Linked DNA regions of Homo sapiens. The gene in region 7 interacts genetically with the main gene of each other region. Each region holds a gene or a part of one and is shown on either strand. Other genes may lie near its edges.

Region 1 (4,648 bases), on a different chromosome or scaffold from region 7:
TTTAATGGATTTTTAAGGGTAATTCTTATGATATGTTTATATTGCTAATTTATCTACTGCTTTAATGTTAAGTCTAACCCCTGGATAAAATGTGACTTTGCTCTTACGCTGAGGTTGGAAAAAAAGCTTAAGTTGAAACCATGCTTGTGATTATTATACTATTTCCCCTTTTGTTTCCTTTCATCAGCCCATCTGAGTTTTTATTAGTGACTTAAGAGCATTAAAGATGGAAAGTGACCACTGGAGACAGAAAACCTAAGCAGGTTTATAATTTAGTTGGGAAGAAAAGATAGAAAAGGAAAAGGAGGGCAAGGTAGCTTATACTGATTACTTGTAGGCAGTAAGTACGGTAGGACTGGGAGACTTAGGGAGACCGTACAGCAGAGTTGTGAATCCAGCTAGATACTATACTTAGACTAAGACATCAATATTTTTGTGGGAAAAGTATCCTAATGACTTTTTTTTTTCTTTTAAGAGATAGGGCCTCACTCTCCGATGCAATGGTGTGATCATGGCACACTGCAGTCTCAGCCTCCTGGGCTCAAGGAATCCTCCTGCCTTAGACTTCCAAAGTGCTGGGACTACAGGCATGCACCCGGCAAATTTTATTTTTTTGTAGAGACAGGGTCTTGCTATGTTGCCCAGGTTGGTCTCAAGCTTCTGGCCTCAAGTGATTTTCCCCCTCTCAGCCTCCCAGAGGATGAGGATTATAGGCATGGGATGCCATGCCTGGCCTCTCTAATTACATTTTAATAACTAGCAATCATTATTGCATTACAAATGGGGATTTTTTTTTATCATACTATGAATTTCTCAAATAGAAACTTATATTGAAATCATGTTTTCCCCTGCAGTCTCACACCATTTTGCTGGTACAGCCTACCAAGAGGCCAGAAGGCAGAACTTATGCTGACTACGAATCTGTGAATGAATGCATGGAAGGTGAGTTTAACACTAATCAAGGGGTAGAAAAATGTCTCATTTAGGAACTGGGTTTTTCCCCTCCAAATTTTTTTTTTTTAATAGTCCATCCACCCCAGGCCCTGCCTTTATCACTTCCAACCCTCCAAATTTATTGAATTGCTAATTTTAGGAGGGAAAGCAGATATTTAGGATGGACCATAATTATTGAACATTTTATTTATTTGTTTGTTTATTTATGTATTATTTGAGACAGAGTCTCGCTCTATCACCCAGACTGGAGTGCAGTAATGCGATCTCGGCTTACGCAACCTCCGCCCCCCAGGTTCAAGTGATTCTCTTGTGCCTCAGCCTCCCAAGTAGCTGGGACTACAGGCATGGGCCACCACACCCAGATAATTTTTTGTGTATTTAGTAGAGATGGGGTTTCACCATGTTGGCCAGGCTGGTCTCGAGCTCCTGACCTCAAGTAATCCGCCTTGGCCGGTTGAACATTTTAAACATTAATTATGTATATAGTATCCTCCTTGCTACAAGTATTAGGTGTTTTTTTTTTTTAAACTAATGTATATAATGAGTGACTTTCCAGAGCTGCTTGTTGTTTTATAAATATTCTCTTCTTATTTGTCACATGTTATTTTGTTACAGTATGGAAATATTTTACAGGTATCCCTTATATATTCTGGTTAAGCTCAAACACTATAGGCTTGTGTGTCTGTCTGTTTTTAATAGGTTGTTTTAATAGATTTAAGGGATACAAGTGTAGTCTTCTTATATAGATATATGGCATAGTAGTAAAGTCTGGGCCTTTTTTTTTTTTTCCTTAAGACACGGGGTCTTGCTCTGTCACCCAGGCTGGGGTACAGTGGTGATAATGGCTTATTGCAGTCTCAGTTTCCTGGGCTCAAGCAGTCCTCCTGCCTCAGCCTCCCAAATAGCTGGGACTAGAGGCACCTGCCGCCACACCTGGCTAATTTTTTGGTTTTTTTATAGAGATGGGGTCACTGTGTTGCACATGTTGGTCTCAGACTTCTAGCCTCAGGCAGTTCTCCTGCCTTAGCCTCCCAAAGTTCTGGGATTACAAGCATGAGCCACCGCGCCAACCAAGTCTGGGCTTTTATTGTAGCCATCACCTGGTGTACATTGTACGCAGTAGTGATTTTTCATCCCTCACCATTCTCCCACCTTTTGTAGTCTCCAGTGTCAGTTATTCCACTCTGTCTGTCCATGTGCACACATCATTTAGCCTCCACTAATAAATGAGAACATTAAATGTTTGACTTTCTGAGTTACTTCACTTGAGATAATGACCTCCAATTCCATCCATGTTGCTGCAAAGACATGGTTTTATTCTTTTTTTAATAGCTGAGTAGTATTCCATGGGATGTGTGTGCATGCATTCTCATACACCACATTTCCTTTGTCTAGTCATCCATTGATGGATACGTAGTTGATTCCATGACTTTGCTGTTGTGTATAGTACTGCCGTAAACGTATGAGTGCAGGTGTCTTTGTTTCTTTTTGTTTTTTGAGACAGAGTCTCACTCTGTCGCCCAGGCTGGAGTGCAGTGGTGCATCTCAGCTCACTGCAACTTCTGCCTTCTTGGTTCAAATGATTCTCCTTCCTCAGTCTCCTCAGTAGCTGGGACTACAGGTGTGTGCCACCACGCCCAGCTAATTTTTGTATTTTTAGTAAAGACAGGGTTTCGCCACGTTGGCCAGGCTGGTCCCGAACTCCTGACCTCAAGTGATCCACCCACCTCGGCTTCCCAAAGTGCTGGGATTACAGGCGTGAGCCACCACTCCAGGCCATCTACTCTAATTCTTAAAGAAGAACATGGCATTTTTTTCTTCATCTCTTTACAGATCCATTTCTCTGCTGACATTTCTGCCTGCTATTGATGTAGATTTTGTATGCAGGCTCTCTTAGCAAATTGTTACCTAACCTACATTATCATGTTTGGTCTTTGATTCTGCAATACTCTTATTTCTCAGGGCAGTTTCAGGGTTCTAGAAAAATTGAACAGAAACTACAGTTTTTCCGATATTACTCTCTTTCTTCACCCCTACACAATTTCCCCTATTATTAATGAATTTCACTGGTGTGGTGCATTTGTAACAGTGGTGAACCAGTATTCATTACTGATACATTGTCATTAAGTAAAGTTCATAGTTCATACTAGGTTTCATTCTTATGTCCTACATTACTGTGGATTTTCCCAAATGCGCAGTGTCATGTGTCCGCCATTACAGCATCACACAGAATGGTTTCACTGCCCTGCCCTAAACATTTCTTGTGCTCTACCTATTCATCCCCTCCTACCCCACCCTCAACCTCTGGGAACCATTGGTCTTTTTACTGTCTCCATAGTTTTGTCTTTTCCAGAATGTCATATAGTTGGAATCATTATCGTGTGTGGCTTTTTCTTAACTGGCTTTTTTTACTTAGCAATGTGCATTTATTATGTTTCCCCCATGTCTTTTCATGACTTGGTAGCTCTTTTTCTAAAAATTAAAAGTGGTGATTTATTTCCCATTTAAAAAACTAAAACAAAAAAATGTTAAAATAATTATTAAATAAGTTCTCACATGATGTGGTTGCCAAATGGTAATTTTATTATTCTTTTTTTTTTTTTCTTGTAGTAAATATTCCCCTGTAGATCAGAGCATTTTTTTCCTCCCCCCTTTTTTTTAAGAGCAGTTAAAGACTTTATTTAAGACCATGTTTTTAGAGCAGTTTTAGGCTTATGGGAAAATTGTTTGGAAAGTACAGAGCTCCAGCATACGCCTTCTTTCCTCCCCTTCTTAGTTTCCCCTATTAGTGCATCTTCTATTAGTCTGATTACACTTGTTGGGATTGGTGAATTAATATTCATAGATTATTATTAACTAAAGTTCGCAGTTTATGTTAGGGTTTACTGTATGTGTTGAACATTCTGTGGGTTTTGACATGTATAATTACGTGTATCTACCTTTACTGTATCATACAGAGTAGTTTCACTACCAGAAATCCCCATTGCTCCACCTATACCTCCTTCCCTGCCACCACCCCCAAACCCCTGATCTTTTTACCATATCTGTAGTTTTGCCTTTTCTGGAATGTCATGTTAGAGTTACGGAGTATGAAGCCTTTTCAGACTGGCTGCTTTAACCTAGCAATATGCTTTTTTTTTTTTTTTTTTTTTTTTTTTGGCGTGCGAGACAGAGTCTTACTCTGTCACCCAGGCTGGAATGCTGTGACGTAATCTCAGCTCACTGCAACCTCTGCCTCCCTGGTTCAAGCGATTCTCCTGCCTCAGCCACCCAAGTAGCTGGGATTACAGGCCTGCGCCACCATGCCTGGCTACCTTTTTTTGTATTTTTAGTAGAGACGGGTTTTACTGTGTAGGCCAGGCTGGTCTCAAACTCCTGACCTCAAGTGATCCGTCCACCTCAGCCTCCCAAAGTCTGGGGATCACAGGCATGAGCCCCCATGCCTGGCCAACCTAGCAGTATGCTTTTATGGTTCTTACTTTTTGTGTGTGTGGCTGCATAGCTGATTTCTTTTTATTGCTGAATAATATTCCCTTGAATGAATGTACCATGGTTTGGTTATCCATTCACTTATTGAAGAGCATCTTGGTTGCTTCTATTTTTTGGCAATTATGAATAAAGCTGCTATAAACATTTCTGTGTAGGCTTTTGTGTGGACCTAAGTTTTCAGCTCATTTGCGTAAATACGTAGGAG
Region 2 (4,648 bases), on a different chromosome or scaffold from region 7:
TTGCCTTAACAACAACAACAACAAATGACTAGAACAAGTTTTTAAGAATAAAGGAAAATGCTTATGATATACTACCAGGTTATAAAAGGGAGAATGTAAATGGTACATATCAACCATAATTAACTATGTTAAAAATGCAAACAAATAGAAAAAAAGAAACAAAAATGTTATTAGTGATTCTAATTGAACAGTTGGATAATAGATAATTTTATTTTCCTTTTATACGTTACCGTATTTTCCAAATTTTCCACAGCGTCTTTTAAAAAATTGTTAATTTAATTAAAGCCTATATAAATAGGGGATTTGTACTTACTAAACTTGAGGCCCAGTTTCCTTATCTACAAGCAGGACAAGAATTCTTCCCTTTCAAGGTTACTGTTAAAATCAACGTAGAACCTGACATATCAGTTGACATGTGTCATTAATTATTATACTATAGTCAAATTAGAGAACATAGTGTCTTTAATGTGAACATAGAGATGTTTTCCCCTCTACTAAGTGATTCTAAACAACTGCACTTTGACGTTGTGTAATAATTCAAAATGTTTTTCTGTCTCTCCCATCCCCACTGCCATGCTGTAACTTACTTCCTCTACTTGCTTGCCCACCCCTTCTACATTCAGAGGGCTTAGAAATCAGGCAGTCTAGAGGCTTGTAGACTCACAAACATGGGTTGTTTGGCCCACGCACTGATACAATATTTGAATAAGTAGCCAAAGGATAAAATTCAGGAGACTTCATATAAAAATCCAGATTTCTAGCTTTGGAAAAATAGGAAGATTTGGTGTCATCAAATGATATGTGCCCTTTAGATGCCCACAGTTCTCACTTCTCCCTAATGACTCCCAGGCACTGACACTGAAGGTCAGCTGCCATATATCATGACACTGGGGCTGTCTTATTTTACTCCAGGCTTAATTCTCTGTTCAGCCTTATTTGATTTTATGATCCATTACCTACCTCTATCAGTCAGGGTCCTTTCATCAAAGAGAAAGCATAAAGTAATTTGAAGAGAGAAAGTTTAACATAAAGAATACCTACAAAAGGGGGCTGGGCATGGTGGCTCATACCTGTAATCCCAGCACTTCCGGAGGCCAAGGCGGGCTGATCAACTGAGGTCAGGAGTTTGAGAACAGCCTGGCCAACATGGCAAAACCCTGTCTCTACCAAAAATACAAAAATTAGCCGGGCGTGTTGGTAGGCAGCCGTAATCTCAGCTACTTGGGAGGCTGAGGCAGGAGAATCACTTGAACCCAAAGAGAGAGGTTGTGGTGAGCCAAGATCATACCACTGCACTCCTGCCTGGGCAACAGAGCAAGACTCCATCTCAAAATAAGAAAGAAAGAAAAAAGGAATACCTATAAAAGCATAAAAGGGGACTAGAATGATGAGGAATTGACTAAGAGAGAACCGTAAAGAATATAATAGCAGGGCCGGGTGCGGTGGCTCATGCCTGTAATCCCAGCACTTTGGGAGGCCGGATTCACCTGAGGTCGGGAGTTCAAGACTAGCCTGACCAACACGGAAAAACCCTGTCTCTACTAAAACTACAAAACTAGCCAGGCATGGTGGCAGGCGCCTGTAATCCCAGCTACTTGGGAGGCTGAGGCAGGAAAATCTCTTGAACCTGAGAGGAGGAGGTTGCAGTGAGCCGAGATCGTGCCATTGCACTCCAGCCTGGGCAACAACAGCAAAATTCTGTCTCAAAATAAAAAAAAAAAGAAAGAAAATTGGCCGGGCGCAGTGGCTCACGCCTGTAATCCCAGCACTTTGGGAGGCCTAGGCGGGCAGACCACCTGAGGTAAGGAGTTTGAGACCAACATGGAGAAACCCTGTCTCTAACTAAAAATACAAAATTAGTGGGGCGTGGTGGTGCATGCCTGTAATCCCAGCTACTTGGGAGGCTGAGGCAGGAGAATCACTTGAACCTGGGAGGCGGAGGTTATGGTGAGTCAAGATCATGCCATTGCAGTCCAGCCTGGGCAACAAGAGTGAAATTTGGAAGGAAGGAAAGAAGAAAGGAAGGAAGAAAGGAAGGAAGGAAGGAAGGAAGGAAGGGAAGGAAGGGAAGGAAGGAAAGGAAAGAAAGGAAGGAAGGAAATTAACGTCAGATAAATACAGGGTTTGCAATAGATAGTTTGATGTAATTATCTATTAGTTACCCTCAAGACCTTTTCATTTAAAAATGAATTTCCATGTAAGAATTTCCAGGGCTGGGTGTGGTGGCTCATGCCTGTAATCCCAGAACTTTGGGAGGCCGAGGCAGGCAGATCTCAAGGCCAGGAGATCCAGATCATCCTGGCTAACATGGTGAAACCTTGTCTCTACTAAAAATACAAAAAATTAGCTGGTTATGGTGGCACGCACCTGTAATCCCATCTACTGGGGGGGCTGAGGCAGGAGAATTGCTTGAACCTGGGAAGGGGAGGTTGCAGTGAGCTGAGATCACGCCACTGCACTCCAGCCTGGGCGACAGAGCAAGACTCCATCTCAAAAAAAAAAAAAAAAAAAACAAAGAATTTCCAGTCTAACTAATATTTATTTCCATTTTATTTCAATAAGTTAAAAACTGAATATTAGTATTCAAGGAAGACTGAGATTTCTGTAATTTCATTATAGGTTTTAAGAAATACCAGTACTCATACTTAGTACTACTACTTTTTTTTTTTTTTTTTAAGACAGTCTCGCTCTGTTGCCCAGGCTGGAGTGCCATGGTACAATCTCAGCTCACTGCAATCTCCGACTCCAAGGTTCAAGCAATTCTCCTGCCTCAGCCTCCCGAGTAGCTGGGATTACAGGCGTGAGCCACTGCGCTCAGCCCAGTGTGGAATTCCATACTGAGCTGAAGGGGATCTTATCATTCAACAAAAGTCTCATCATTAAATTCTTTAATTAGAGGAGAGGTTAAGACTATCATATACAGAAACATTCTGAATCCATTTCATGTCATCTTCTCTTGAAAAGGATGTCACTTCTTGAACAGCACAATTTACGACTAACCTGTGAGGATGTCAAGTGTGAAATTCATCTTGGATAGTTCACAATAGGAACTACTTCAGATTCCAAATTGGCAGGTGTTAATTTAAAAGGCATCTAAGACATATTAACTTATTTCTTATAGGTTTCAATGGTATTTGGAGACTGTTTACCTCTGGAGTTTCAAGTTCTACTCCACTGACTAGGCAGAAAGCATGAGATATACTGTGGAAGGTATGAAAGATGTTCCTAATTTGGGGAGCTAAAGGCATCAATTTAGGTAGATCCTATTTTCATTCCTTCTTTACACAGCATTCATTAGGAAAGGCAACATTTAGTAGTCAAGTGACTGATTTGGCAACAGGAATCAAAATGACTTAGTTCCAAATCACACCTCTACCAGAGTCTGTGACCTCTTCAAGCCTGAGTTTGCTCATTTGTAAAGTGAGGTTTAACAGTATCTCATAGTCTTGGTCCTGAGGATTAATAAGATAGTGCATATCATTGCCTGGTATACAGAAAGAGCTCAATAAACATTATTAATATTATTATGCAGATAAGTCTTAATTATGTTTATCAATATAGTATCCTGGAGAAAACAAAGTTTTTCAGGAAAATAATATTGAATCATATTGCAACCGGATTTTATTTGATCCAAACTTAGTTTTATCAAGGATCCTTATGAAACAATAATCTGTAGTTCAATCTGAGAAAAGACAAGCTGATGATTTCTTTCCAGATATGGATAAATTTACTGAGATTGCAAAGTTTAAAATTTTATAATTTACGTTCATTCATCTGAGACAGGGTCTCACTTGTTGCCCAGGTTGGTCTCAAACTCCTGGCCTCAAGCAAACTTCCAGCTTCAGCCTCCTAAAGCACTGGGATTACAGGTATAAGCCACCATGCCCGGCTCAAATCTTAGAATTTACAAATGAAATTCCAAACAGGTATAAAATCTCTTGTATTACCATAAGAGGGTAAGAGCAATGTACCAGACAATATAAAAGTCCTTAAAAATGTAACATTGTTAAATCTACTTCAAAGAGAACCTATTGTAGAGGCAGAAGCATACTGAATAAATCTGTTCTTCAGACACAATAAACCTTTGATTTGCGGGTAACTCAAACCCCTAAAGATACTTATTATGAATGAGTCAGTTATTATAATCAGACACTGATATGGTTTGGTTGTGTCCCCACCCAAATCTCATCTTGAGTTGTAGTTCCCATGCGAGGGACCTGGTGGGAGGTCATGCTGTTCTTGTGATAGTGAGTTCTTGCTGTTCTTGTGACAGTGAGTTCTCACGAGATCTGATGGTTTTATAAGGGGCTTTCCCCCTTTTGCTCAGCACTTCTCCATCCTGCCGCCCCATGAAGAAGGATGTGTTTGCCTCCTCTTCTGCCATGATTGTAAGTTTCCTTAGGCCTCCCCAGCTATGCTGAATTGTGAGTCAATCAAACCTCTTTCGTTTATAAATTACCCAGTCTCAGAAATGTCTTTATTAGCAGTGTAAGAATGGACTAATACAGACACAAAACTTTAAAACACGAAAGAACAAAACAAAGCTTAAAATGAGAGTAAGTATAATGAAGAAAAGAGAGTTAAATACTAAGAAAAATAGTATAAAGCAGGGAGGGTAGAGGAAAAGCCCTGGCCTCTCCAAATAGAA
Region 3 (3,911 bases), on a different chromosome or scaffold from region 7:
TTATTTTCTTTTCTATTTTCCCCATAACCTGCCATTAAGTCCTATGTTTATTTTTTGTAATGTCTCTTGAATCTACCCAGATGTGAGCATTGAGGCCTGGGTTACTCAGTAGTGTTCTAACTAGTCTCTGCTTCTAACCTCTCCCTGCTCAAATCAAGCCTACATGTCACTAGCAAAGCAACTCCCAAAAAAAGCTTGACCATGTCCCCTTCTTTCTCTAATGCCTATGGAATTAAAGTTAAACTTAAAAAAAAATGTTTAAAAGCTGGCAATTCCACTGCTGGGTATACACTCCAAAGAACTGACAAGGACCTGAACAGTTATTTGTATACCAATGCCCATAACATTGTGGCTATTGTGAATAGCCTTTTCAGAATAGACAAAAGGTAGAAACAACCCAAATGTCCACCATATATATAAAAGAATACCTGTCTCCCATGTATATATGAGACATATTCATCCTTAAAGAGGAAATCTGGATACATGTTATAACATGGATAGATCTTGGAGACGTGCTGTGTAAAATAAGACGAACACAAAAGGACAAATATGATTCCACTTATATGAGGTATCCAGAATAGTCAAATTCATTGACAAAAAAGTAGGAAACTGTTTACCAGGGGCTGGGAGGAGGAAGCAATGGGGAGTTACTGCTAAACAGGTACAGAGTTTCAGTTTGGGATAAGAAAGTTCAAGAGATGGACAATAGTGATAGTTACAATACAATAAGAATATTCTGAATGTCACTGAACTATGAAACTTAAAAATGGTTAAAAAGGGCAGGGCATTGTAGCTCATGCCTATAATCCCAGCACTTTGGGAGGTTGAGGCAGGCAGATCATCTGAGGTCAGGAGTTTGAGACCAGCCTGGCCAACATGGTGAAGCCCCGCCTCTACTAAAAATACAAAAAATTAGCCAGGTATGGTGGCAGGTGCCTGTAATCCCAGCTACTCGGGAGGCTGAGGCAGGAGAATCATTTGAACCCAGGAGGCGGAGGCTGCATTGAGCCAAGATCATGCCAATGCACTCCAGCCTGGGTGACAGAGTGAGACTCCATCTCAAAAAAAAAAAAAAAAAAAGGTTAAAATGGTAAATTTTATGTTCTGTATCTTTTGTCCTATAGAAACACAAGTTGAATTAACAAAAGCATATATTAAAACAAAAGTACAGGCCAATACCACCAAAATGGTTTTATTTTTGTCATTGACAACAAGCACAACACTGCAATTGTATCATTATTTTGTTTAGTTTCTTAAATATTACTTAAGTATGCATTAAAAATATGTTTACATTTTAAAAATGTGACACTTTAAAGAAGTCCTCTGTAAACACGATCCCTTCTCAATATATTTTCCTGCTTTGTTTCATACATAAATAACTTAATCTACAAAGTCATAAATAATACTATCAACTCTTATGGCCTGGAAGTATATACAAATTTTGGAGTCTGACAAAAGTGTTCTTTATGATTTTATAAATAACACATAGTATTTGTAGTGTTGATTATAAATCAAATGACTTTTTACAAATTCCTACTGTCTCCTCAACCTGTTCTACCAGTAACAGATCTTCCAGTTTACTTGGTTGGTAAAGATGCCAGGCATTTAAAAAGTCAAAATGGTCAAAATTCTATATTAAAAAAAAAAAAAGGCAGAGAAGGTTGCTATTTAAATATTACCAAATCTTAATAAAACCACTTCAGCTTGTCTGAAAAACAAAAAATGCTAGTAAAGAGTGAATGCTTGTACAATCATATAAATGGTACTCAATAAAATCTAAAATTTAAGAAATAATAAAATCAGATGAAATCCATATTAGTTTTGCAAAAAAACTCCACTGAGATTCTATTACAGGAACAGAATCAATACTATTCTACATTTTCTAAAATTTATTTCTAATCTTCACTTTGATGAGTTAAAATTTTAAAGGCAAGAATAATGACAAACAAAACAATTCTGAAAAGCCATACTTATAATCCTTGACATCAAGATGTTAAAAAGGTTTTTTAAAAAAAGCCATACTTGAGATTCCTAATATAGAACATTTGATTGTTTAGTTTTGTTTAATGACTGGAAATCCTTATTTCTTCAAAAAATAGCAAGTATCCTTTGAAACACATCACCCATCTAATAAGATTGTTTAGTTTTGTTTAATGACTGGAAATCCTTATTTCTTCAAAAAATAGCAAGTATCTTTTGAAACACATCACCCATCTAATAATTTATTAAATAACCATTCAAGATTTATTAGGTAAGCACTAAAATTACTTTTATGTAATAAAAGTAAATAGGAATTTTGCATGTTTGTTGTTTCATTTTACAAATTTTTTTATTCCGTTATTTATAGGATATAAAACTTTAAGAAAACATTCTCAACTAACATTCTCATTAGATGTAAATGATTCAAATTACAAATAATACTAACCTAAGCATTGTCATTACTTTTAAAATCCAAGTTTCTCAAAGTTTGATTTTTTTACTCAATACAAAAATGACCTGGTTCACACTATTAGCTGCCCAACAAACTGTTTGAAAAACTAAATATTCTTTGTTCAAGAGTAGATTACAAGAAATGTTTTCCATGCTCTTATTTCAAAAAACAAGATTCTGATATACATAATGAATCTAAATAAAAATTCACAAGTGGTGGCTGAAATCCTGTCAACTTTCAGCCCAATACAATATAAATCCACAGTTATAATGCATAAACAATTCAAAATTAAAGTTTATAATGGAAATGTCAACAAGTCATAACTACTACACATTACTACTGATGGGTTCCACTATACTTCAACCTGGCACAGCAGATGTGCACATCTGATAGACAGACTGCTTAGAAAATTAAAGCTATCAGAGCTATAAATAAGGAATACATAAATATGAACATAGCAATGCCAAAGCATTAGAGCTGTTAAAAAAAGTGAATAAGATGTGATGTAAACACATCTGATAGTTCTCTCTGTAAGCCACTTTCCACTGATTTATAAAGCTATGGTTTTATAATTCTTTTAAAAAGTAAAATTTTTCTACACTGCTGCATGCAGTAATTTCATTGTACATTCTCAACTACAATGCAATCTTCAAACCCTCTTGCAGAGCTTGACATATCTCATCAGAATTTCTCCAGAAAGTCAGCTTGTCATATTTTCAGCAGCCTAGAACAAGAAAGTAAGATTCATTACAATAAAACCATGGAAAAAGAGGCATCATGAAGATAAATTTGTCAATACTGCACTGTCATTAACAAACAACTATTCCCCATAAAACAGAACCACTTTTATCACAGTAATGCAGTGCTTTTCATGTTTTGCTATACATCAGGACTACCTTTTGAATGTACAGTTAACAGTCCACAGGCTAACAGTGGAAAATAGTTATATCACCTAAAATAATAGTTAAGAGCACAAAAAACATACTGCTACTTGAAACATTAACCTATGGCAGACCTGTTGCCACAGACTTCATTAGTTTGTCTGTTTCTGTGTTTTATTCTAGTAATAGGGATTAAAAATGAAAAAGACCTTTCATGCTACAAGGCAGAGAGAACAAGAGCAAAAGATGAATAATGAACATCTTATCTAATCCTGTCTCATCTACATCCCTAACTACTACTCTTTCCCAGGTGATTCTGAAGAAATTCCAAGATACCATATCATCAATAAATACTTTGATACATTATTTCTAGAGACTTAAACAAATCACCATACTATTATCCTACCTAAAAAATTTCTTAACATCAATATAAAAAGATATAATTTTAAATAAGTTTAATTTTAGAAATATGTGTTAGTATTTTAATTCATTTACCTTTCTAACTCCTTTTTATAAGACCTACCTACACAGGGACACATCGCAGATTTACACTAAAGTATTAGTAACAGTACAGGACATCTGTAAGAGAAAGGGCAAGC
Region 4 (4,648 bases), on a different chromosome or scaffold from region 7:
ACTGTTGAAATCTAAAACTAGGCCCCAACCCTGCCTCTGCAGTCCTAATATACCAGTTTGTGCCACGACAGATTATAGTTTCCAAACTCCTAATGGACTGAATATTTTACCCCTTTGAAAACTAACAAGATTCCAGTTTCCAGCTATAAACCTCTAAGTCATTTTGTAATTAACTGCCTTGAAAGCTGTAATCAAGGGTTTTCCATGAGGTATTGCCAAAGGCTTGATGGGAGCTAACGTGAGTCACCTCAATTCTCAGACAGACTGAGTGATCATGATAGCCTACGCTGTACTGTGCAAGTTGGGTAAAGCTTAGGAAACTATCAAGGCTGAAAGATAATTTTCAAAAGTAAGTTTAGAAAATAGGAAGGTTAGTATAAATCTGCCTTTCTCTAAGGCCCAAACTAATAGTCTTCCTGAGGTATAAATATATTTTCCTACTAATGGCAGGTTTCTACCTTAATATTTATCTGAGATTTCTGCAAATCTTTCCTAAATTGCTAGTCAGTATCTAACACACAGCATGCTAGATTTGCAACCAGACCTTTAAATATAACAAATGATACTGTCCTTATTTTTTTTAAAGAGTAGAATGAATTGGCCGGGCGTGGTGGCTCACACCTGTAATCCCAGCACTTTGGGAGGCCGAGGTTCGCGGATCAGCTGAGGTCCAGAACTTGAGACCGGCCTGACCAACATGGAGAAACCCTGTCACTACTAAAAATACAAAATCAGCCGGGTGTGGTGGCGCATGCCTGTAATCCCAGCTACTCGAAAGGCTGAGGCAGGAGAATCGCTTGAACCCAGGAGGCGGAGGTTGCGGTGAGCCAAGTTTGCGCCATTGCACTCCAGCCAAGAGCAACAAGAGCGAAACTCCGTCTCAAAAAAAAAAAAAAAAAAAAAAATTGTCTGAAAACGTGTTTGTGCTTGGGTGGAATTAGGAAACCTTGATTATGTCTCACAATGTCTTCAAATATGTGATGAACACTCAAAAGAAAATGGGGAAATGAAGAACGACAATTTCATGAAATTAGATTACTCCAAACTTTCCCATCTAAAGACCCCTTTCAACACTGTTAAGACACTGATATAGTAAATGATCTTTGTCAATGGACACAGCCTTGTGGTTAGTCTAACTGACCTCAAAGTCCCTATAAGCACTATGTCTTATACACAGTAGATATTCAATAGCACCATCATAGAATGAATGAATGTTAAGGCTTCTATGCCAAAAATACTGTCGAAGGAGATGGGGAGAGAGAAAAATCAGTGAGAAGCCTATATTTGTGCTACTCAAAAGTGTCACCTATGGGCCAGTGCCAGTCCACAACTATAACTGATCCACAACAAGAAGCTTACATCAGAATGTAAATCAGCTCTATCACTAAGCAAACTGCAGTTCAGCTGATGTTTTGGGGAAGACTTTCTTGATGAAAGAAGCGTTGAGCAGACAGATTCTGGAGTAAGCTTCCTATCTCCTTATGGACCTATAAAAATAGTTTGCAGACCAGCCACTTTGAATAACGTGAGTAGAGTACGAGTCAAAGAGGAAAGAAAAAGGAATTTGTGGTTATATATGCAGAAAAAGGTTGAAACGGGGAAGTTTTAATACTGTTTAGGTAAATAAGGATTAAACACAAAAGGAAGGAAAAACGTGAGATGATGTCCTTGCAAAAAACATTTGTGAAGTATTGACAAAGAAGTTTCCCTTCATAATTTTGTTGCACACGCACCTCTGGCCCTTAATCATCAATATACTCAAATGGTTCTGGGGGTTCTGGCTCTTGTTCCTCCTCCTCGATTTTTGGGCCATGTGCTGCCACAGGTTCCACCAGCTCCTCAATGTCTTCACTGGTATCCTTCAGAATGATGATGCCTCCAATAGAGAGCTGGAAACACAGGGGCGTGCAGAAGCGTACACTCATATTTCAAGCGTGCTCCACAATCTAGAGTAAATACTTGTTAAATGGTACTTTAAAACTACTTAAATGATTTGGAAGTGAAAAACTGGAGTAGAACTTTACTGGGATAAAGATAACTGTGATCTATACGAAGTATTTGCAAACTTAACCCAGTAGCTCTAGATGGTATAACATGTGATGCTGTTCTACTTGGATGATGCATCCCAATTTAAGAATAGTTATTTCCCAGCCATGGCCTTGACTACCAGCCTCAGTCTCACTGCAGGAAGAATGTTTACTGTCCAAATATAGTATCCTAATTCCTTCCTACTCAAGATATGGTCCTGGGCCAGAAGCATCATTATCATCTGGAGCTTGTTAAAAATGCAGAAAAGCTGGCCCCACCCTAGATCTGCAGAATCTGCATTCTAACAAGATCCCAGTCAATCTGATGCACACTGAAGTTTGAGAAGCAGTCTAATGCACACTGTATGATTTGTGAGATGATAATCATTTTGAACACGAGAGTGTATAAATTAAAAGCCAATTTTTTCTCCAGCAATTTCAGAATGATGGAGAGAATAACACAGATATCCCGGGTTTTTCACTTTAATCTATAAATCCACGTGATGCAAGCCGATGAAAAAATACATGGGAAACAAAAGGGAAGTAGACTGTAGCAGCAATTCTATTAAGCCCTCTCCCAAACATATTACAGAAGGTAAATTCAAACACTAAACTATTCACCCCTCTCTAGTGTGCTAATCTTATTCTATTTGCTTGCCTGTGTCAAAGGAAATGGAAAGCTGCTCTATGTAATTAAATCAGTCAACAGTGGCAGGGCACATCTGGAAAAAGCATATTTCTACCAAAGCACATTACTGGGAAGGAAAAGAAGCACAAGTACATTAGTTAAATGATTCACGTATGTATAAGCATCTCTGCAGTTCAACCTAATCCAATTTTTACTCATCAGAACTCTGCCCTGCCATGCTATAAAACTGGTGTGCTTCGTGAACTCCGAACTATTTCCCTTCTCCTGACACACACATATCTATACATTTTTCTACAACCCCTTCCCTTAAAAAGTTTGCTTTCCTTGAAGAGGATCCATTTTATGAATGGACCCTGCCCTTACTGCCAATACTCCCAGAATGGAGCATAGGGCCACTGTCCTAATCCTCCATAGCCTAAAAGTTTACTTGAACCTAATGGACCAAATGGAGATGAATCTCCTACCAAACAGAAGAAAATATCCACGTTCACATGAGGACTTTCTATTTTTTGGAAAATGTGGATCCAGGTTATGCTATTTCATGCTTAACTGGAATGAAATAATCCAACTTAATCAAAGGAAGGCCTCATCATACAAAAACAACAGTAACACACACACAAAAAAAAATCCCAAAACTAATAATCCAAATCAACACATGGAAAGGGCTGTTTATAGCTATACATGGTCTAGGTTTGTTAATGCTTTACATGTTGGTGGGAAAGTTCACACCCTCTATGCATAAGATATACGATTTTCTGTTCTCTGGGGAGGCTAATTACAACTGTAGATATAGGCAATGAAACACTTCCTCTTGCCTCATGGTGGACAGGAAGCAGGGTAGGAATGTTACTTGTTTCCAAAACTACAGCTGCCTCTTTCAAATGCAGTGTCTGAGGAAGGGTCCCATGACCTTGCCACTGAGGGTAGGGGAGTGAGTCACTGCACATACACAGAGGCAGTGTTTTCTTTTTTAAAATGAGATATATTAACATAAAATTCATTCTCTCAAAGCGTACAATTTAGTACATTCACAAACTTGTGCAGCTATTAATACTTCTGCTATCTAATTCAAAAATATCTGCATCAACCTAAAGAAACTGTGGGCCCAGTAGCAGCCACTCTCCATTCTCCCCTTCCCCTGTCCTTGGTAGCCACCAATCTAACTCGTCTCTATAGATTTGCCTTTTCTGAATGTTTCACATAAAGGGAACCAGACCATATGCAGTCTTTTACGTCTGGCTTCTTTTACTTAAAATAATGTTTTCAAGGTTCACACACACTGTAGCATATATCAGTAAGTCTTTCCTTTTTATGGTCAAATAATATTCCATTATTATCTCACATTATTCATTCATCAGTTGATAAGACATTTAAGTTGTTTCCGTTTTATGGCTATTATGAATCATGCTGATATGAGCGTTAGTGTGTAAGCTTTTGTGTGGGCACAGTTTTCTCTTCTCTTAGGTATGGAATGGAATTGCCGGGTCATATGATAAGACTACATTTAACTTTTTGAGGAACTGCCAAATTCTTTTTTTCCACTGTGGCTGTAACTTTACTTTCCCACTATTACTCTATGAGGGTTCCAATTTCTGCATATTCTTGTCTGTGCGGTCTTTTTGATTACAGCCATCCTGGTGGGTAGAATGTGATATCTTCTTATGGTTTTGTGTTTCTTTTTAAATTAAGAGATGGGATCTTGCTATGTTGCCTAAGCTGGTGTCCAGTGGCTGTTCATAGGCACAATCATATTGCACTACAGCCTCGAGCTACTGGGCTCAAGCAATCCTCCTGCCTTGGCCTCCCATGTAGCTGGGACTGTAAGTGGGAACCACTGCACCTGTTATGGTTTTGATTTGCATTTCCTAATGAGTAATGATGTTGAGCATCTTTTCATGTGCTTATTTGCCCATCTGTACATCTTCTTTGGAGAAATGTCTATTCAAATCATTTGCCTGTTTTAAAATTAGGT
Region 5 (4,648 bases), on a different chromosome or scaffold from region 7:
TTTCTGAATCCTGTCCTGTGAGGTGTGTGTTAGATGCCCTCATATTTAAGCTAAGAAGATAGGATCAAAATATAATTAATATAATCAATCACCTATGGAAATGAAGCAATCCAGGTATTTCAGGAAGACTTCAACTTAATTAAGGTAACTTTTATATAATACAAAGAAATATGATCTCTAATTTTTTGTACATTCTATATGAAGAATGTGTTAACTTGAGCAGAATAGTCTAAATGGCAATGATAAAAGCAGGTCCAGGAACCAAAGTTCAGGTGTATGCCTCCTGTAGTCTTTAGGGAATGAGTGCTGTAACCCAAGCTCGTCTCTGTAGGGTGAGGATACACCCATCAATCTGTCTTGGCTCAGTAACACTGTCCATTGAGATCACCCAGCCATGTTTGCACTTTCTACATATTATACTCCCTGGGCAACCTCCTGATTATTATAATTTGCCATCCACGCTAGATTTGCCCCCGGGGAAACATATGGGGTGATAAGGGAGAAATAACTGATCCTCTTGAAACAATTTTGCAATTCAATTTTATACATTAATATCTTGTAAATTTGACTAGTTTGAGTAAACTCCTTAGAGCTTGACCATCTCTGGATGATCAAATTTTGGATCTCAAAAAGCTGAGCTGCAGCAATGGTGCCCACATCTCAGTACAGCTGCTCTGTGGGGACACTTCAATGGTATGGTTTTTTTCCCCAGGCTAATCTATTCTCTCACATGAGGCATGCTCTTCAGTTATCCACAGAAATGGAATCAACTTAACTCATTATCAGCTCTTCTTACACCATATCCCTCCCTCTAAGACTCAATTTTAAGTCCTCTTTAAATTGTTTTCCCCCAGACCTATCCATTAACAAATGGAAGGGAAAGGAGTAAGAAAGAATAAGTGGATTAGAAAGATTTAAAAGAAGCAAAATGTATTCTAGAGTTAGAAAAGTTTGAAAGGGAGGGGACAGAAGAGAAAAAACAGGGTAATAAAGATGGGAATAAAGACTAAATGGGTCCCTGCTGTATCTGAATGCTTCTTTCTGAGCCATTCTGGTTCTCATAAATGTATTACCTGATTTATGATCCTGTTCCTCTTCATCATCTGAATGCCTGTGTTCTTCATCTGAGGCCTGTGGCCTTTCATCATCAGAATTTTGCATTTTCTCTTCATCAGACAGCTGTGGTTGTTCTTCATCATCAGAATTCTGTTTCTCATCATCATTATCAGAAGCTACCGGCCGTTCATCATCAGAATTAGCCTTTTCCTCCTCAGATAGCTGTTGTCTCTCATCATCGGAAAGCTGAGGCCTCTCCTCATCATCTGTGTTCTGCATTTTCTCATCATCGTCAGAATTCTGCAGCTTATCTTCATCAGATCCTTGTGCCCTCTCCTCATCATCAGAATTTTGTATCTTTTCATCATCTGACTGGTCACTTTTATCTTCTCTGCCCCATTTTTCATCATCTGAATGTGCTTTTTCAGAACCTTCTGCTTCTGAATGATGGCTCCCTCCATCCGATCTATGACCTTCGTCTTCATCATCATTAGGGGCTTCTGATCCACTGTGCTGATCTACATCTGAGGGGTCATTGTCCTCATGGTCAGAACGCTCAGAAGCTTCTGATCTATTGTCTGATCTTTCAGAGTGATTATCACTACCACTATGATGTGAAGCTCCCTCGTCCTCACTGTCATCTCCAAACAGTTCCTTATTACTTGGTTGTCCTGAATCACCTCTTTCATCCTGATCACTTTCACTTCCAGAGGCATTACTGCCAGAGGCAGCATTCTCTTGATCAGAATCTGAGTCAGATCCAGAATCAGAATCTATGGGGTCATATAAACATAGGATAACATAAGCAAAAAAAGGCAGAGTAAGGCAGTCCCAAAGTCCATCCCAACATAAAAGCAATGAAGAAACTGGCAAAAACTGTTAGAATTAACATTCTAAGGCCGGGTGCAGTGGCTCACGCCTGTAATCCCAGCACTTTGGGAAGCCGAGGCAGGCAGATCACCTGAGGTCAGGAGTTCGAGACCAGCCTGACAAACATAGCGAAACCCTGTCTCTACTAAAAATACAAAATTTAGCCAGGCATGGTTGCACATGCCTGTAATCCCAGCTACTCAGGAGGCTGAGACAGGAGAATCACTTGAACCCGGGAGGCAGAAGTTGCAGTGAGCGGAGATCAAGCCACTGCACTCCAGCCTGGGCGACAGAGTGAGACTTTGTCTCAAAGAAAAAAAAGAAAAAGAAAAAGAAAAATATATTTACTAAAATCAAAGAGTCACTAGAGGGGCTCAACCAAAGATTTGAGCAGGAAAAAGAAAGAATCAGTAAACTTGAAGATACCTCAGTTCGACTGTCCAATCTGAGAAACAGAAAGAAAAAAGAATAAAGAGAAAGGAACGGAGTCTAGAAGATTTATGGGACACCTTAAGTTATACCAATGTATGCATAATGGAGTCTCAGAAGAAGAGAAATGAGCAGAAAAAGATTCTTAAATAATAGCTGAGGCCAGGCATGGTGGTTCACACCTGTAATCCCAGCACTTTGGGAGGCCAAGGCGGGCAGATCACTTGAGGTCAGGAGTTCGAGACCAGGCTGGCCAACATGGCAAAACCCCATCTCTACTAAAAATACAAAAGTTAGCCAGGTATGGTGGCGCAAGCCTGTAATCCCAGCTACTTGAGAGGCTGAAACAGGAAAATCGCTTGGATCCAGGAGGTGGAGGTTGCAGTGAGCCGAGACCACACCATTGCACTCTAGCCTGAGTGACAAAGCGAGACTCTGTCTCAAAAGAATAAATAAATGATAGCTGAAGAACTCCCAAATTTATGAAAAATATAGATCTACACATCCAACAAGTTCAACAAATGACAAGTAGGATAAACTTACAGAGGTTTACACCTAGAAACATTGTTATCAGACTGTCAAAGACAAAGAAACAATTCCAAAAGCGGGCAAAAGAGAAGCAGTTCATCCCATATGAGGAACGCTCAATAAGAGTAACAGCTGATTTTTCATCAGAAACCAAGGAATCCCAGAGCCATCCATAAGAGGACACATTCAAAGTGCTAAAAAGAAAGACTGTCAACCAAGAATTTTATATTCAGTAAAATTATGCTTCAAAAACTAAGACGATATGGAAGACAAAAGAAAACATAAATTGGACTTCCACAAAATGAAAAACTTTTGTGCAGCAAAGGACGTTATTAAGAAAGTAGGCCCGGCGCAGTGGCTCATGCCTGTAATCCCAACACTTTGGGAAGCCAAGGTGGCTGGATCACCTGAGGTCAGGAGTTTGAGATCAGCCTGGCCAACATGGTGAAACCCCATCTCTACTAAAAATACAAAAATTAGCCAGGCATGGTGGCTTACGCCTGTGAGCCCACTACTTGGGAGGCTGAGGCAGGACAATCGCTTGAACCCAGGAGATGGAGGTTGCAGTGAGCCAAGATCATAGCACTGCACTCCAGCCTGGGCAACAGACCAAGACTCCATCTCAAATAAATAAATAAATACATAATATTGCTAAGTTAAGTTCAAAACTGGTTAATGTCTTAGAGGACAATAAAATCTTTTGGCTGGGTGCGGTGGCTCATGCCTGTAATCTCAGCACTCTAGGAGCCCAAGGTGGGAAGATCACCTGAGGTCAGGAGTTCCAGACCAGCCTGACCAACATGGTGAAACCCTGTCTACTAAAAATACAAAAATTAGCTGGGCATGGGGGCACACGCCTGTAATCCCAGCTACTGGGAATAATGAGGCATAAGAATCCCTTAAACCTAGGAAGCGGAGGTTGCAGTGAGCCGAGATCGTGCCACTGCATGAAAGGGGAGACTCTGTCTCCAAAAAAAAAAAGTAAGTGAAGGCCAGGCGCAGTGGCTCACGCCTGTAATCCCAGCACTTTGGGAGGCTGAGGTGGGTGGATCACGAGGTCAGGAGTTTGAGAACAGCCTGGCCAATATGGTGAAACCCCATCTCTACTAAAAATACAAAAATTAGCCAGGCGTGGTGGTGCATGCCTGTAGTCCCAGCTACTTGGGAGGCTGAAGCAGAATAATCACTTGAACCCAGAAGGCGGAGGTTGCTGTAAGCCGAGATTGCGCCACTGCACTCCAGCCTGGGCGACAGAGCAAGACTCCGTCTCAAAAAAAAAAAGGAAAGTGAAAAAACAACCTACAGAATGGAAGAAAATATTTGCAAACCATGTATCTGATAAGTGTCTTTATCCAAAATATACAAAGAACATTTATAACTCAACAATAAAACCAATTTCTTTGTGTTTTTTGTTCGTTTGTTTTCTTGGAGACAGAGTCTCGCTCTATCCTTCAGGCTGGAGTACAGTGGTGCAATCTTGGCTCACTGCAACCTCTGCCTCCCTCAAGCGATTCTCCTACCTCAGCCTCCCAAGTTTATGGGCGCACGCCACCACACCTGGCTAATTTTTTTGTATTTTTAGTAGAGATAGGGTTTCACCATGTTGGCCAGGCTGGTCTCGAACTCCTGACCTCAGGTGATCCACCCACCTCAGCCCCCTAAAGTGCTGGGATTACAGGCGTGAGCCACTGTGCCTGGCCTAAAACCAATTTTTTTAAAACAGAGGACTTGAATAGACATTTCTCCAAACAAAGTTACACAAATG
Region 6 (4,648 bases), on a different chromosome or scaffold from region 7:
CAAGGTAAGAATAAAAATAATTTGGACATATAAAAACATTAATTATATTAGCATCTACATATTATATTATGATATGATTCTCTTAGGGTTTGCAAGACTTTCTTCAGAATCACATCACGGAGGATCTCCTATACACTGGGTGCTTCCAGCAGGAATGAGTGCTAAAATGCTGGGAGGTGTCTTTAAAATTGACTGGATTTGCAGGTAAATTATACACTTCAGTATAGATAACTGAAATTTTGAATACACTACCAGTTTAGAATAATGTGTTAAAGTGAAAAAGTCACTGTATACTTATCTTACCTTGTTCAGTAACTACCTTTATCTAATGTGGGACACAACAAAGGCGTATTTAGTCTAAAGTTACATGTATTTGATTTGTTTTGTATATTAGTAATAAAGCAGTAAATGAATTGGACAGTTGCTTGAAATGTTGTCTGGCGTATCTGTATAATTTTAGTGATTTAACATGTCACTTAAGTTATTGAGGAATGGGAAATAAGTACTATGACTTGGCTAACAATTTCGGAGGTAACTAGTTTAGTCGTGGACAGTATTTTTTAAGGAGGTTAGCAAATGATGTTTAGTTGCCATTGTGATCTTCTGAAACTGAGTTAAGATTTAACTGTATTTATTAGAAAAATAATCAGGCTTATTTTGAACACTGAGTTGTCACTATTTTTAGGTCCTTACTGCACACTGAAGTATTGTACACAAGAAGCTCATTATTTAAGTGATCTTTACGTGGCATACACAAATGTATTACCTGTAAAATTAATTTTAGTTAAAAAGTGTCTGAAAGGAGATGGTTACTTTGTGAGTTTTAAGTTGTTTTTGGGTATTAGATCTTGATGAGCCTGAAGGGGTCGGATGAAAAAGAAGAAAAATGCTATGCATATGATGGAAATCAGCCTAAGCCAAGAAGAGCATGGAAACAAACTATGGGGTTGCAGGGTTGTGGGGAGCAGTGGGAGGGCATATGGATGTGTGAGTGGGATAGGGAGCTACCTTTTTTTATGAAGGAGATGGTTAGGAAAAGAGAAGAACAGAGGGCAAAGATGGATAAGAATGAATGAATGTGAGTCAGCCTAAATGTTTATTGTAGGATAGTGAGGAGCTGTGAAGATAGAGGGAGTGATATATTACAAATAGCATACAGTCACTTACTGTGTAGTGACATACCCATCAACAAAGAATCTTGTCCCATAAGACTGTAGGACTCGTAAGAGGTACCTATAATACCATATTTTACTATACCTTTTCTATGTTTAGATACACAAGTATTTTCCATTGTGTTACATTTACCTACACTATTCAATACAGTAACATGCTGTGCAGATTTGTAGGCTAGGAGAAACAGGTCATACCATATATCCTAGGTATGTAGTAGGCTATACCATTTAGGTTTGTGTAAGTGCATTCTGTGATGTTCACACAATGAAATCACCTAATGAGTGTATCCCTGTCATTAAGTGACACATAACTGTATTAGGTTGATAATAGCGTAGCAAAAAGCTATGTGCAGAAAAAATACTCATCCCATTATTACTTTCTGTGGGAAAGAGTTGGAAATCATCTAAATTCTTTGAAATAGAAAATTAGTTAAATTATAGTTTGTCTCTTAAATATATGTGGAAGTAATTGTGCACATATCAACATGGAAAGGTATAACAAATGAAAAAATACATAATTATGGTATTGGAATGCAGTGTTAGGTGGTGAGACTGTTAGTGCTTTCTCCCACTTCCTCTCTGTTGCCCCCAGGGGTTTTAAAATATAAACTTGGTTTTTTTGAAATCAAAATTATAATTAAGTTATAATTAAAGTTGAAAATCTGGTGACAATTTGTAGGAAAGGGAGTGATTATTTTTATTTTGTGTGTGTATGTGACTGCTCTGTAAAGGCCAGAGGAAACGTTGTAATGTAACATATTTGCAGGTGTTGCTTTCTTGGGAACAGGAGAGAAAATAATTGCCCATTTTTATGTGGGTTGCAGCAGATTTTGTTTCAAATGTTATTTGTTCTGTTAACCTTCATTTTTACATTACTGATAAGGAAATTCTTAATTTTAAGATGAATTTAATTTTTCATGGATTATTCATTCTTCATATTCCTCTTCATTGACTTATTGACTATTCTACTAATTTGTTTGAAATGTATCAAGCAACCGAAGAGGTAGACAGACTCAATTTGTCTATCCTACTAACGTGAGGTGTAAAATTGTGGGCAGTAAAGTGCTTTTATTATTTTAAAGTAAGTTTATGGGTTTACCTAGAAATAGTATTTTTACATAATAAAACTATAGTTTTAATGTTTTAATACTCAAGTTCTATTCAAGTGTAATTTTACAATACTTTACAGTTCTGGAGGGCTTGTGATATTTCTAACATTGATATTTCCTTAGATAAGTCACTTGAACTCTCTTGAGTTTAAATTCTCTCTATATAGTGAGAATTACATTTGAGTCTCAGAACATTTAAATTTAATAAATAGAAATGGTCAGGACTTTGCTATCAACAGTAACTGCTGTTAATATTTTTTTCTTTTGCAGATATAATAATTATTAGATTTATATTTAAGGACCCTTTGGATATAATAATAACTAGACTTAAGCTTTTTTAGGTGTGATCCCTGGATCACTTACATCAGTAGCATCTGACTGTTAAAATGCAGAATCTTGAAACCCACCTCAAACCTGTTAAATTCTTGATGGTTCAGGTAGTTGGTAGGCACATGGAAGATTGGGACCAGATAAGTGTCATGTTTTAGCTGATAAAGAGAGGGAGGCATAAAAAGCGACTTATTAAGGTTGCCACCTGTAATTAGCTCAAAATAAGGCATGATCTATGAAATACTATTCATCCAGAGTTACATTTACTGACTAGGTGTTATATTCCTTTCATGTCCATTCCAAACAACCCATTTCTGTTTTCATTTAGAGTCTCTCCATTTTTCTTTTCTTTTCTTTTGAGACGGAGTTTCGCTCTTGTTGCCCAGGCTAGAGTGCAATGGCGCAATCTCGGCTCACCACAACTTCCGCCTCCCGGGTTCAAGCGATTCTTCTGCCTCAGCCTCCCTAGTAGCTGGGATTACAGGCATGTGCCACCACGCCCGGCTAATTTTTTATTTTTAGTAGAGACGGGGTTTCTCCATGTTGGTTAGGCTGGTCTCGAACTCCCGACCTCAGGTGATCCGCCCGCCTCAGCCTCCCAAAGTGCTGGGATTACTACAGGCATGAGCCACTGCGCCCGGCCTCCATTTTTCTTTTTAACTTTAATCAACAAACCACTGTCCAGCATATAAGAGCCTCTGCATGGCTGGGCGCAGTGGTTCATGCCTGTAATCCCAGCACTTTGGGAGGCTGAGGTGGGTGCATCACTTGAGGCCAGGAGTTCGAGACTAGCATGGCCAACATGGTGAAACCCCGTCTCTACTAAAAATGCAAAAATTAGCCAGATGTGGTGGCGCATGCCTGTAGTCCCAGCTACATGGGAGGCTGAGGCATGAGAATCCCTTGAACTCAGGAGGCGGAGGTTGCAGCAAGCCGAGATCATGCAGCTGCACTCCAGTCTGGGTAACAGAGTGAGACTGTGTCTCAAAACAAAAAACTGTGCACAGTTTTACATTCTTTGTTAAATTTGCCCTATTTGCAGAACCACTTAGGTCAGAGAGTCCCTTACATGTTCTCAAAGAACTCACAGTAAAGATAAGTTGTATCTGTATGCTTCATAACATAGCTGCTCAGAAGGTAACTGTTAGGTTGCTTGTTCTATGATTGTGATCTGAGAAGAAAGGATAAAATAAGGATGCTACATGGATCACAGACCCTGCAATTTTTCTTAATTTATTCTGAGCCCTGTTTTGCCTCAGGCTTCACAGTTTTCTGTGATGTTCTGGCTGAGATTAACTGTGTTGAAACAGTGAACAGATGTCTCTTGAATCTAGTTGGAACCAGTGCCACCAAAGAATCTCAACCCCAAATGATACATTTAGCTTGGCCTATGCTTTTACTTCTACTTGGATCGTGGGTATTTAATTGCTGATATTTAAATAACAGTGATAATCCCATTAATTTATAACCTTCTTATATTTTGGTGGCTGTAGGTTTTCATTTATGCCTTTCCTATAACTGTTTTAAACTGGCAATTAGAAGAAAAATTTAAATTATTCAACAGAATACAAAGAAAACTAGATCTCTGCCTCTGGATATTCAAGCTTTGATGTGGACTTGTTCTAGTCTTTCTACTTCTGAGAGCCTGAAAAGGGGGAAAAAAAATTCAGTATTTTTGACTCACTCTTGATGGGTGAAGTAAGGTGTATATTAGAAAAAGAAACCAAGCTTTTAAGTGATACTTAGTGGATATTTTCATTACTCACTGACCACTCTTCCATGTATATATATATCACCTCCATCACAGAATATACCACCTTGTTAATTTAACTCTAAAATACTTCTATTTCCCTGGAAAATGTCAAAGTTTTTCCTGAGGTTTAAAACAAGTTATATAAGATCTGAGCATTCAGGCCAGGTGTGGTGGCTCACAGCTGTAATCCTAGCATTTTCGGAGGCTGAGGTGAGAGGATTGCTTGAGCCCATTTATTCACAATCAGCCAAGGCAAAATAGATCCAATCTCTAAAAAATTAAAT
Region 7 (4,648 bases):
TACGAAAAAAAATGAATCAAAATATTCCTCGTCCCCTTCCTCTGAATGAACTCCAGATTTCTGTGTCCTTAAATATGGTTATGATGAACACAATTCCCTAAAGTCTGACCATAAAAGAGTACTCTGGAGGCCAGGTGCGGTGGCTCATGCCTGTAATTACAGCACTTTGGGAGGCCTAGGCGGGTGGATCACCTGAGGTCAGGAGTTTGAGACAGACCTGGTCAACATGGTGAGACCCTGTCTCTACTAATAATACAAAAATTAGCTGGGCGTGGTGGCTTGCACCTGTAATCTCAGCTACTCGGGAGGCTGAGGCAGGACAATCACTTGAACCTGGGAGGCGGAGGTTGCAGTGAGCTGAGATTGTGCCATCGCACTCCAGCCTGGGTGACAGAGCAAGACTCCGTCTCAAAAAAAAAAAAAGAGTACTCTGGAAACCCTTCCAATGATTGAACCTCTCTTGCACTTGAACTGTTTGATAATACTGCTTTCTCTCCTTTGAGCCAGTCTTCCAACGCCTCAACCCCTTTACTTTCTTTTTCTTTTTTGAGACAGAGTCTTGCTCTGTCGCCAGGTTGGAGTACAGTGGCACAATCTCGGCTCCCTGCAACCTCCCCCTCCCAGGTTCAAGCAATTCTCCTGCCTCAGCCTCCTGAGTAGCAGGGACTATAGGCACGTGCCACCATGCCCAGCTAATATTTGTATTTTTAGTAGAGACGGGGTTTCACCATGTTGACCAGGATGGTCTGGAACTCCTGACCTCGTGATCCGCCCACCTCAGCCTCCCAAAGTGCTGGGATTACAGGCGTGAGCCACCACGCCTGGCCCAACCCCTCTACTTTCAAACACTTGCCTACACCCTCTGGAACTCGTGCTCTGTAATCTGCCAACTCATCTATATCCTCAAGCTCCTCACTCAGCATTCCTTCCATGACTTGCCTTAACAGAAACCTGGTCATTCACTGAGGCCACCACTCCTCTCTGCAGACCTCTGGTGGAGGTTGCTCATTCTCTTACATCCCTACAGGATATACCTATGTCCTACTGGGCCCCACCCTGTAGCTTTCAGAGCACTGCTTTTCTGCCTACCAGCAAACTCCCTTCTCTTTTGAGACCTGTGCCAAGAGTCTAGATTAACTTCTCTCCTTCCTAGTCATGGTCACTCCTTCATTCACTGAAGACTTTGGCAGTGGTTTCCACTCTTCGTCTCTACCCCAATTCCCATCATCTTAGGGTCACCCTGGTGACTTCGAAGTGCACATGGGTAGCCCCTTCAACACTGCATGGCCACAGTTTATCACCTCATCTCTAACAACCTTCTTTTCCATGTCACTTTACTTTTTTTTTTTTTTTGAGTCTCACTCTGTTGCCCAGGCTGGAGTGTAGCGACACGATCTCCACTCACTGCAACCTCCGCCTCCCGGGTTCAAGTGATTCTCCTCAGTGATTCTCAGCCCCCCGAGTAGCCAGGACTACAGGCACGCACCACCATGCCTGGCTAATTTTTTGTATGTTTAGTAGAGACGGGGTTTCACCATGTTGGCCAGGCTGGTCTCGAACTCCTTACCTTGTGATCCGCCTGCCTCGGCCTCCCAAAGTGCTGGGATTACAGATGTGAGCCACCGCGCCCAGTCACATTTTCCTTTTTAAATCATGCTTAGGTTGCTCACTGTATCATTTCAATCACTTCAGTCACTCTCCTGTCAATAATTCCCTTGCCCTGATCTGGACTGCTGAGTGCTACTGGAGAAAAATAACAGCACAGACTGGAACCACCATAAATTCATGGTCCTAGCCTTCAGCAGGTCCCTCAATACTGCTCAATATCCCACATCAATAACTATTTAAATGCTCCTCAGTCTCCTCAAGCTTCCAGCTGTATCCTTAATGTTTGACAGATGGTGCTGCATAATGAAAAAGACATCAGGTGAGAACCTCCGCCATGCCCTCCCTCTGGATTACAAACCTACAACTGTAAGCCACATTTTTAAACAGAGACAGGGTCTCACTATGTTGCCCAGGCTGGTCTTGAACTCCTGGGCTCAAGCGATCCTCCTTCCTTGGCCTCCCAAAGTGCTGGGATTACAGGCATGAGCCACTGCACTCAGCTAAGCCACACTTTCTTTCTTTTTTTTTGAGACAGAGTTTCACTCTTGTTACCCAGGCTGGAGTGCAATGGCACGATCTCGGCTCACCGCAACCCCCGCCTCCCGGGTTCAAGTGATTCTCCTGCCTCAGCCTCCCAAGTAGCTGGGATTACAGGCATGTGCCACCACACTCAGCTAATATTTTGTATTTTTAGTAGAGACAGGGTTTCTCCATGTTGGTCAGGCTGGTCTCGAACTCCTGACCTCAGATGATCCACCCGCCGCAGCCTTCCAAAGTGCTGGGATTACAGGTGTGAGCCACGGCGCCCGGCCACCACACTTTCTTTCTCCCTTCCCCCATCTGAAGCCAATTCCTCCACCATGCTGCTCTGGTTCCCAGCCTTGCCTCCCATCTCCAAAAACCTACACTATTAATAACCGTTTTTTCTTCTCTTTCTTTAAACTCAGTTCTTTCTCATGAAAGACATAATTTCTAATATCTTCGAATAAAATAAAAACAACTTTACCTTAATCTCACACCCCTCTGTAGCTTCCATTCCCTCTTCTACCCTTCATGGCCAAGCTTGAAAAGTTTTGCTCCCCAATATACTTTGATTCGACTTGGTCCCCAAAAAGTGCTAAGGTAATGTCTGACCTCTATCTCACCAAAACCAATGGGCACTTCTCAGTTCTACTAATCATCGTCTCAGCAGCAATTACTCTCTTGAGACATTCTCTTTCCTGGCATTTTTAACACAAACTCTCCTGGGTTTCTCCAACTCGTTGGTCACTTCCAGGCTCTTTTCAAAGCTCCTCCTCTTGTATGAAACTATCACATTTTAGTGTCTGCAGGACTCTATCAGGCCTCTGTTTTCTCACTCTGAGCTTTCTCCCTACATGCTCAGATGCACTCCAATATTGTCAATTACCACCCATATTCTAAAGACTTCCAAATTTGTATTTTCAGCCCAGATCTCTTATTGGAACACCAGATTTGCATATTTAACTGACCTCTCATCACTGCATGAATTGCTCACAAACTCCTTAAATTCAACATGTTCAAAAATAAATTTGTTTTTTCCCCACTGAACTTGCTCCTCCTTCAGGGTCTCCTAAGCCAGTTACTGATGTTGAAAACCTGGGAATTGCCGCGGGGTGGCCCAAGCCTGTAATCCCAGCACTTTGGGAGGGTGAGGCGGGTGGATCACCTGAGGTCAGGAGTTCAAGACCAGCCTGGCCAACATGGTGAAACCCCATCTCAACTAAAAATACAAAAAAATTAGCTGGGCATGGTGGCGGGCACCTGTAATCCCAGCTACTTGGGAGGCTGAGGCAAGAGAATCTCCAGCTCAGGAGGCGGAGCTTGCAGTGAGCCGAGATCATACCACTGCACTCCAGCCTGGGCGACAGAGTAAGACTCTGTCTCAAAAAAAAAAAAAAAAAAAAAAAGAAAGGAAAACCTGGGAGTCACTCTCCTTACAGTGGTCCAAACCAATCGCTCTGTAGCCCTGGCTGGAGTGCAGTGGTGTGATCTCGGCTCATTGCAACTTCCACCTCCCAGGTTCAAATGATTCTCTTGCCTCAGCCTCCCAAGTACCTGGGATTACAGACATGCGCCACCATGCCCAGCTAATTTTTGTATTTTTGGTAGAGACAGGGTTTCACCATGTTGGCCAGGCTGGTCTGGAACTCCCAACTGCAAGTGATCCACCCACCTTGGCCTCCCAAAGTGCCGGGATTACAGGTATGAGCCACTGCGCTTGGCCCAAACTGAAGAGATTTTTAAAGCAATACCATAAAATGAAGAGATTTTTAAAGCAATTTATCTCATGAAGGACTAATCTGCTGACTTCACGTTCTCATGATTATCATTAAAGTCAACATTATCACCCCCTGCTTTTTTTTTTTTTAAGAGATGGGGTTTCACTATGTTGTCCAGGCTGGTTATGAACTCCTGGCCTCAAGTGATCCTCCTGCCTAAATTTCCTGAGTCATTAGGTATATACCCCATTTTATAAACAAGAAAAGCAAAATGTGAATAAGTAATTTACCTACAGACTTAAAGCAAATGAATAGCAGAACGAGGATTTGACCTCAGTTCTATACAACTCTTATTTTACACCAAAGTACCTTAGCTTGTTCTTCAGAGTGCTCATAACTGCCTAGACTCTTGCACCTAATTACCTACTCTCCGCCATTTCTTCCTTCTGATTCCATCATCCCAAATTTCCATCTCTCCAGTTCTTTGGTCCTCCAGGTCTCATGGTTTTTCTCATGCCCCTCAGCCCCTCTACTCACTTTTTCTGAAACCACAGACTTACCCAGTGACCGTAAATTAAGCTCTTCTGTGATCTTGGCCTCCCGGAGCAGTTCCTCCTGGGTTAGTGGCCGCTCACAGTGGGGCCCCTTTCGCCGTCTTGACTGGCCCTGCCTCTCCTGTACCCGAAGGAACGTTTGTCGTGTATGCTCAGCTGTAGACTGACGCATAGACTTCCGACCTGGAAGAGAGTGAGATAAGAAGAAATCTTTGAATTCATGTCCACATATTTTATTTATTTATT

What was found.
Region 1: changes in VPS72 (region 7) and ERH together harm fitness more than expected from each alone (negative genetic interaction), as found in Homo sapiens cells (one large-scale study listed by BioGRID).
Region 2: changes in VPS72 (region 7) and SLC39A9 together harm fitness more than expected from each alone (negative genetic interaction), as found in Homo sapiens cells (one large-scale study listed by BioGRID).
Region 3: changes in VPS72 (region 7) and MZT1 together harm fitness more than expected from each alone (negative genetic interaction), as found in Homo sapiens cells (one large-scale study listed by BioGRID).
Region 4: changes in VPS72 (region 7) and PSMD1 together harm fitness more than expected from each alone (negative genetic interaction), as found in Homo sapiens cells (one large-scale study listed by BioGRID).
Region 5: changes in VPS72 (region 7) and LEO1 together harm fitness more than expected from each alone (negative genetic interaction), as found in Homo sapiens cells (one large-scale study listed by BioGRID).
Region 6: changes in VPS72 (region 7) and YTHDC1 together harm fitness more than expected from each alone (negative genetic interaction), as found in Homo sapiens cells (one large-scale study listed by BioGRID).

Annotation. Positions count from the first base shown.
Region 1 is NC_000014.9:69,391,119-69,395,766, reverse strand, and holds part of ERH (enhancer of rudimentary homolog), read left to right. Parts: intron 1-854; coding exon 855-942; intron 943-4,648. UniProt on the Homo sapiens protein: May have a role in the cell cycle.
Region 2 is NC_000014.9:69,404,713-69,409,360, reverse strand, and holds part of SLC39A9 (zinc transporter ZIP9), read right to left. Parts: intron 1-4,648. UniProt on the Homo sapiens protein: Transports zinc ions across cell and organelle membranes into the cytoplasm and regulates intracellular zinc homeostasis. Participates in the zinc ions efflux out of the secretory compartments.
Region 3 is NC_000013.11:72,707,191-72,711,101, forward strand, and holds the end of MZT1 (mitotic-spindle organizing protein 1), read right to left. Parts: intron 3,156-3,911; coding exon 3,132-3,155; 3' UTR 1,177-3,131; downstream 1-1,176. UniProt on the Homo sapiens protein: Required for the recruitment and the assembly of the gamma-tubulin ring complex (gTuRC) at the centrosome.
Region 4 is NC_000002.12:231,167,807-231,172,454, reverse strand, and holds part of PSMD1 (26S proteasome non-ATPase regulatory subunit 1), read right to left. Parts: intron 1,890-4,648; coding exon 1,743-1,889; 3' UTR 1,734-1,742; intron 1-1,733. UniProt on the Homo sapiens protein: Component of the 26S proteasome, a multiprotein complex involved in the ATP-dependent degradation of ubiquitinated proteins.
Region 5 is NC_000015.10:51,964,676-51,969,323, forward strand, and holds part of LEO1 (RNA polymerase-associated protein LEO1), read right to left. Parts: intron 1,830-4,648; coding exon 1,074-1,829; intron 1-1,073. UniProt on the Homo sapiens protein: Component of the PAF1 complex (PAF1C) which has multiple functions during transcription by RNA polymerase II and is implicated in regulation of development and maintenance of embryonic stem cell pluripotency.
Region 6 is NC_000004.12:68,325,558-68,330,205, reverse strand, and holds part of YTHDC1 (YTH domain-containing protein 1), read left to right. Parts: coding exon 1-4; intron 5-86; coding exon 87-204; intron 205-4,648. UniProt on the Homo sapiens protein: Regulator of alternative splicing that specifically recognizes and binds N6-methyladenosine (m6A)-containing RNAs.
Region 7 is NC_000001.11:151,179,909-151,184,556, forward strand, and holds part of VPS72 (vacuolar protein sorting-associated protein 72 homolog), read right to left. Parts: intron 4,586-4,648; coding exon 4,409-4,585; intron 1-4,408. UniProt on the Homo sapiens protein: Deposition-and-exchange histone chaperone specific for H2AZ1, specifically chaperones H2AZ1 and deposits it into nucleosomes.